Homo sapiens: one gene and its partner. The protein of the gene in region 1 interacts with the protein of each later gene in a biochemical or structural test. Each region holds a gene or a part of one and is shown on either strand. Other genes may lie near its edges.

Region 1 (4,035 bases):
TTTATGTTGTACCTCAATTCATCTTTTTTTTTTTTTTTTTTTTGGTCTCTACTTCTCTGCTTCCACTCTCTCACCCTCTTCCTCTGCTTTTTTAATCTCTTGCAGTCCAGTAACTTGTGAGGAACTGAAGTTAGGACTGTGAACCTGGGATAAAACACATGGCCTTACTGCTTGGGGCCAGCTTTTCTGAGCTTGCAGGCTTTTTCCTATCTCTCCTAGCCAGGGGCTTGGGGTAGAGAGCATGCTGGAAGAAATCTCTGAGTAAGTGGCTGCTGTAATGAACTGACAGCTGCAGCTGCTCTCTGTGGCTCACATTAAATGCTGTGGCCTGGTGTACGCATACCAAAAGTCAAGCAAAAATTGACCCACACTTATCATAAACTCTTTAAAGGAGTGTAAAAGATGAGCCCCTTCTGTGGAGATGGCTCTCACCGTCACTGATCTGCCTCATGTCCTGGCTATTTTGGATACTGTGGATCATTTCCAGAAGGATTTCTTTCTCTTGCTCAACAGCAGTTGCTGCTTCTCTCAAAGCTTCAACCCTATAGAAATTGGGAAAACAAAACGGTTATTGTATGCAGGATGTTCTTCCTATTAATTTTCTTTATCTCTCATTCAACCCAAATCAAGTTTAAAGATCACCAAACTTTTCAAAAATTCTTCATTTCTGCTTTAAAATTCTTTCATTTTTCTATACACTTGCCTTTCTCCCATTTTCCTCCCAGCTCATAAGGCAATCATTCTTTCGTGTTTATCTAATTAATACTATTTGTTTTTTACAAGATCTGTATTATTTGTATATTTTGAATTTATATCTCATTCTGTTTTTATTTTTTCACTTAGCATCCAGGTTGCTAGATTTTTGTTTGTTTTTTGTTTTTGAGACAGTCTTGCTTTGTCACCCAGGTTGGAGCACAGTGGCACAATCTCACCGCAGCCTCCACCTCCCGCTTTCAAGTGATTCTCGTGCCTCAGCCTCCAGGCCCGGCTAATTTCTGTAGTTTTAGTAGAGACGGGGTTTCACCATGTTGGCCAGGCTGGTCTCAAACTCCTGGGGTTTCACCATGTTGGCCAGGCTGGTCTCAAACTGCTGGCCTCAAGTGATCTGCCCACCGCAGCCTCCCAAAGTGCTGGGATTACAGGTGTGAGCCACCACACCCAGCCCCCTATGTGTACTTCTAATCAGTTGCTGCTAATTGCTGTATAATACTCCATGTGTATACCTACCTGATTTTCCCTCTCCACTCTCCCAGAGATGGACACTTAGGTTGTCTACCAGCTTCTCATTACTACAAATAACACTTCTATGAATACATCTCCCCTTTGGACCTTGGTGAGGATTTCCTTAGGACATATACCAGGACAGAACTGCTAAGACAAAGGGTATGTGTACTCTGCTTTTGACTTAGTATTATGACTATTCTGCAGAACACCTGTACCTATCCACTCTCCACAGCAAAGCACAGGGGTCCCCATATCCCTACCAACATTCTGCATTTTCCAACTTTCTATTTGCTGCCAGTGTGACAGAAATACACTGATATGTCAGTGTTAACTTGTGTTTTCCTAATAATTTCAGACATCTCTTTGTATCCTTGTTAGCCTATTCATAGACTTTTCCTATTTTGCTTTTCTATTTTTAAACAGGAGTTACTGTTCCCTTGTTGATTTGTATACTCAAGAGATTCTTGTTGGTTACAGACATTGCAACCATCTCTCATCCTCTCATATATGAACCACGTCTGGGATGTCTTGCACTAAAGAGAGACTCTTATTTTGATGCGATCAATTTTTTTTTTTTTTTTGCCTTATGGCGTATGCTTTTGAAGTTTTGACCTAAGGTCTTCCCCCACCCTTTGGTCCTATTTTCCTATATTTTCTCTTATTAACTTTATAGTTCTACCTTCCTTATATTTATGTCTTTAATCCACCTAGCATCAACCCCTGCATGCAGTTAGGTAAGAATGTTTTGTTTTTTTCTTCCAAATAGCCATTTTCCCCAACATTATTTACCAAGCAATCCATCTTTCCCCTAGCGAATGTATATTCGCTATTTATCTCTAAAATCTCTATGCCATGCATTAGTGTATTTAACTGTTCTTATACCAGTGCCAAGTTTTGGGTTTTTTTTTTTAATAGCACTAGCCTTGTACTACACTTTAATATTTGATAGAGCAGGTCCCTCAATCTTCTTTAAAGATAACTTAGCTATTTATGGACTTTTACTTCTCCAACTTTTCCATATAAATTCTAGGGTAAGTTTATTGTGTTTCTCAAAAAACAAGAGAAATTAGACATCTTTATAACATCTCTCTGTTTAAAGGCATGATATATGTCTCTTCATTTATTCAGATCTATAGAGTTCCCATGTATTCTTCATAGTAGTCTTCGTGGATATTGCTGCTATTGTGAATTTGTATTTTCTACTTGATTTTTACTGGTTTGAGAAGTGCTGTTTTTGTAGGTTTATCTTGTCACTGGCAACCTTGATTTACATGTATTCATTTTAGTGTTCAGTCTGTTGATTCTGTTGGTTCTTCTAGGTTAATAATCATATCCATATCATCTGCAGTTTTTATTTCTTCCTTCCCAATCCTATTACTTTTTTTTTTTTAAGAAAAGGTCCTTCAGTACTGTATTAAACAGTGGCAATCATGGGGGTATCTTTGTCTTTTCCCAAATTTAAGGGAAAATCTCTGTGGCTTTTTTGTGTAAAGCCCTGATCAAACTATAGAAGCACTACTTTCCCACTTCACTCAATTGCACACACATGCACTCACACTATACACACACATGAATATACCCAGTCACTAAAAAACTAAGCTGTGGAATAAGGGCAAAATAAAGAAATATATATTGTATATTTAACATGTTCTATACTTCCAGGGAACGTTGTTATTATGAATTACAGTAACTAAGATGCCAACTTTTGCAAAATGAAAGTGACAGACCTATTCCCAGTATTTGGATGGTCTTAGAAATACAAGTTCATGAAAGATCTAATCCTAACTGCTGTCTTAAGTGTGCACAGAAAGAACAACTTCACCAATGTTTTAGCACGTTCAATTCCATAAAAGGATCCTCTCCCTGCCCTAAGCACACACATGCCTTTTCCCCTTCGGTTACCCACCTGTTATACCCCAAAATAGTACTGACAGGCTGTAAAATCACAGGATATCTTTATTCTTCAAGATATTAAATATATGTCAAAGTGTGTTTATAAGAGCCAGTAAAAGCAAAGAACTGGGAAGAATCGCATGTGACAAATTTGGCTAGAGAACACAATCAAAATACAAATATTCTACTAACTAATAGTAATGCAAGTATCAGGCCCTATTCCAGGACCATTCAGTATTTACTTAAACATTTTACATTAGCAATCTCTCAGAAAGATAAACTAGGGCCCAGAACATAGGAAAGAGACGGAGTTGGCACTAAATATTTATGCTAAAAGCACAAACCATGACTCCAATATTTAGACAAATGACACAGGTGAATCATGTGATTGATAAATGAGAAGATGCTGAAAGAAGAGATTAATTTTTCAACACCTTTTCGGTTTGTATTCAATTGTAAGATGATAAGAGAGAACAATGCTATTCTGAAAAGGAAGGTTTCATTTATGAGTTACAGCAGTAAGTTCATGTTCTTAACAAAATAGATAAAAAAGACATTCTAGAAAAAATATAATAAGCCTGTCATATGACGAAAATATTTTATCATTAAATGAGACCAAATAGTTAGGTGGAACTGCTAAAGTTTGTGTTTTAGGGACCCTCCCCCACCCCCATCCCACAAGGCTTTTTTTAATACATAATAGAAATTACCAGGGCATTATCCCTGTGAAAACCAGATTTCATCATTTATAGAACTTCTTATATACATTTTTATGTATACCTTTTTCATTTCATGCAAGGGTAAAATGTCATTCTTCAAAATGTAAAGATCTCAGGGTTTATTTGGCAACATGGGCTTTTCATGTCCTATTCCCTCTTCAGGTAGCATTCTTTCTCCCTGACCCTTGTCTACTGGGAT
Region 2 (3,500 bases), on another chromosome or scaffold:
TCTATGCCAACTACTGTACTAGACTTGGAATAATGGAGAAAATTCAGGCACAGTCCTTGCTCTTAGGGAGCTCACATGATTACTCATTGATGAATATCTCTCTCCCCTGATAGACTGCAAATCCATGAGGACAGGGACTCTGTCTTGTTCTGTGCCATAGTTCCACAGCATTCCAGCATGATGTCTGGTACTCAGCATGCAAACAGTGCGTATTGGTTGAATGAATAATAGTACAGCTAATAGCAGCTGAGAGCTTCCTCTGTGCTAGACACGATTCTAGGTGCCTTCCACACTTTGACAACCTTATGCAGCGTGTTAACACTGCATTCCCCTTGCACCCTGGAGATTGAGCCCAGAGAAGATAAGGACAGAGGGGACACATTCCAAGATAGATCCCCCAGTGGATGCCTGAAGCCACAGATAGTAACAAACCCTATATATACTGTGTTTTTTCCTATACACACATACCTATGGTAAAGTTTAATTTATAAATTAGGCACAGTAAAAAATTAAAGATAACTAATAAAATAGAATAATTATGACAATATACTGTAATAAAAGTTATGTGAATGTGGTCTCTCTCTCTCTCCTCTCTCTAAATATCTTCTTGTACTCACCTATTCTCAAACTGTAGATAACTGAAATTGCAGAAAGCAAAACTGTGGATAAGGTTGGGGCTACTGCAACTCAGCCAAGGACTTACAGTGGCAGACCTGGAATGCAAACCCAGGCAGTCTGATACCAGGGTTTCTCCACCTGTGTTCTGCCACATGGGATGGATAGGATGGATGGGTGTACGGATGGACGGACGGACAGACGGATGGACAAATGGATTGAAGGATGGGTAGGGGAGTCATCAGATGTGTTCTCCAACACCATGTACAGTACCTGGCACATAGCAAATCTATGATAAACATTTGATAGTAAGTGAATAATGAATGTCAGTGCCAGTGTTGGTGTGGCCTTAGGTTATTCTTTCCAGGTGTTGTATCTGATGCTGGCCTCATATGTTTGTCTCACTTGGCTGACTAGAAAATCCAAGAGAGGTCCCAAGCAACTAGCCCCTCACCCCAACATCATCCGGGTTCTCCGCGCCTTCACCTCTTCCGTGCCGCTGCTGCCAGGGGCCCTGGTCGACTACCCTGATGTGCTGCCCTCACGCCTCCACCCTGAAGGCCTGGGCCATGGCCGGACGCTGTTCCTCGTTATGAAGAAGTAAGTGACAGCAGCGCGGCAGGGCCTGGAGCTGATACATCTCCCAAGGGGAGCTGGTTCCTGCCCTCCATGTGCACCTTGATCAGGGGGTTTTGGAGAACAGGGTCATCACCCTTCCGGAGAAGAAAGCCATGCAAAGGGAACATATCTGCCCTGGAGAGCATTTTCCCTGTAGGACGATTTTTCATGGAAACAAACTCTCATCTTCATCCAGAACATACTTGTCACCTAGTCCTTTTGGTCCATTTGACTGTTAACCTTTTCTGTGGCTGGACTTATCTGTTTTTAACATAAAAACCGTTCTCCTTCCTCACCCTCTGTATCCCCTAACTTTGCTATAGTGGGTATTTTATTTTAAGGAAATAATTATCTGCACCATTACTTTGAATATAGGGAGCCCCAACTCTTACTTCCTAATTTGAGGATGGTGAGTGGGAGGGAACAGAAAGGATGCTGGGGAAAAGTGGGAATCAAAGTGCTCCTGGAAGGGGAAGAGGAACGGCCTAACCCTAACAGTGATTAAGGTTATTAGGAGGCCGGGAATGGTGGCTGACGCCTGTAATCCCAGCACTTTGGAAGGCGGAGGTGGGTAGATCACTTGAGGTCAGGAGTTTGAGACCAGCCTGGCCAACATGATGAAACCCTGTATCTACTAAACATACAAAAATTAGCCTGGTGTGGTGGCGGGCACCTATAATCCCAGCTACTCGGGAGGCTGAGGTAGGAGAATTGCTTGAACCTGGAAGGTGGAGGTTGCAGTGAGCCAAGATCGTGCTACTGCACTCCAGCTTGGCGACAGAGTGAGACTCCATCTCAAAAAAAAAAAAAAAAACGTATTGGGAGTCGTCGATGTGTGGTAGCCAGAGGCCCTCTCCCCTCTCCGCCAGCTATCCCTGTACCCTGCGCCAGTACCTTTGTGTGAACACACCCAGCCCCCGCCTCGCCGCCATGATGCTGCTGCAGCTGCTGGAAGGCGTGGACCATCTGGTTCAACAGGGCATCGCGCACAGAGACCTGAAATCCGACAACATCCTTGTGGAGCTGGACCCAGGTAGGAACCTGCTGCACCATCAGAGCTCTCCAGGGGCACTAGAGGGTGGGTCAGGAGCATTTAGGACTGACTCTTCAGGTCCTCTCTGGTTTTGTGTTCTAAGTCATGTCTTTATTTAGCTCCGCACACAAGAGGTTAGCAATCTCTCCCTTAGAACGGGGTTTTTTTTTCTCTCTTTGCAGAGAGACAGCACTTCCCAAGTTCCTTTCTCTAGCCCACTTAAAGAACAAGGACCTCAGTGCTGCAAGTTTTCCTAGGTAAATAAAGAGGCCCGGCACAGTGGCTGACACCTGTAATCCCAACACTTTGGGAGGCTTGCTTGAGGATTGCTTGAGGCCAGCAGTTTGAGACCAGCCTGGGAAACAGAGTGAGATCCCTTCTCTACAAAAAAAAAATATGTTTTAAATTAGCCGGAAAAAAAGTTAGCCAGGCATGGTGGCATGCACCTGTAGCCCCAGCTACTTGGGAGGCTGAGGTCGGAGGATCACTTGAGCCTAGGAGTTAAGAGTCTGCAATGAGCTATGAATGTGCCACTGTACTCCAGCCTGGGCAGCAGAGTGAGATCCTATCTCAAAAAAATAATAAAAAATAATAAAGTAAAAGAGAAGTAGACTTTAGCTCATTATAAAAAATAACTTTCGGCCGGGGGTAGTGGCTCACGCCTGTAATCCCAGCACTTTGAGAGGCTGAGGCGGGCAGATCATGAGGTCAAGAGATCGAGACCATCCTGGCCAACATGGTGAAACCCCATCTCTACTAAAAATACAAAAATTAGCTGGGCATGGTGGCGGGCGCCTGTAATCTCAGCTACTTGGGAAGCTGAGGCAGGAGAATTGCTTGAACCCGGGAGGCGGAGGTTGTAGTGAGCCGAGATTGTGCCACTGCATTCCAGCCTGGCGACAGAGTGAGAGTCCATCTCAAAATAAATTAATTAATTAATTAAATTTTTCAAACAATGAAAGCTGTCCAAATGTAAGCCCAGTTGCCTCTGGAAATGAGTTGCCTACCACTGGAAGCATTCAAGTAGAAGCTGAATGGCCACTTGCCTAGGAAAATTGTAAGGAGATTCATACATCTGATAAATTTTTGAACTAGAAGATTTAAAATAATTGACTAGAGGAACTGGCTTTTATTATTTCTTTATTTATTTACTTATTTATTTATTTATTTATTTGAGACAGAATCTTGCTTTGTTGCCCAGGCTGGAGTGCAGTGGCGCCATCTCAGCTCACTG

Evidence for each region.
Region 2: the proteins of BAG2 (region 1) and PINK1 form a complex in vitro, tested with the Homo sapiens proteins (2 studies listed by BioGRID).

Annotation. Positions count from the first base shown.
Region 1 is NC_000006.12:57,178,539-57,182,573, reverse strand, and holds part of BAG2 (BAG family molecular chaperone regulator 2), read right to left. Parts: intron 543-4,035; coding exon 433-542; intron 1-432. UniProt on the Homo sapiens protein: Co-chaperone for HSP70 and HSC70 chaperone proteins. Acts as a nucleotide-exchange factor (NEF) promoting the release of ADP from the HSP70 and HSC70 proteins thereby triggering client/substrate protein release.
Region 2 is NC_000001.11:20,643,458-20,646,957, forward strand, and holds part of PINK1 (serine/threonine-protein kinase PINK1, mitochondrial precursor), read left to right. Parts: intron 1-1,032; coding exon 1,033-1,215; intron 1,216-2,102; coding exon 2,103-2,266; intron 2,267-3,500. UniProt on the Homo sapiens protein: Serine/threonine-protein kinase which acts as a sensor of mitochondrial damage and protects against mitochondrial dysfunction during cellular stress.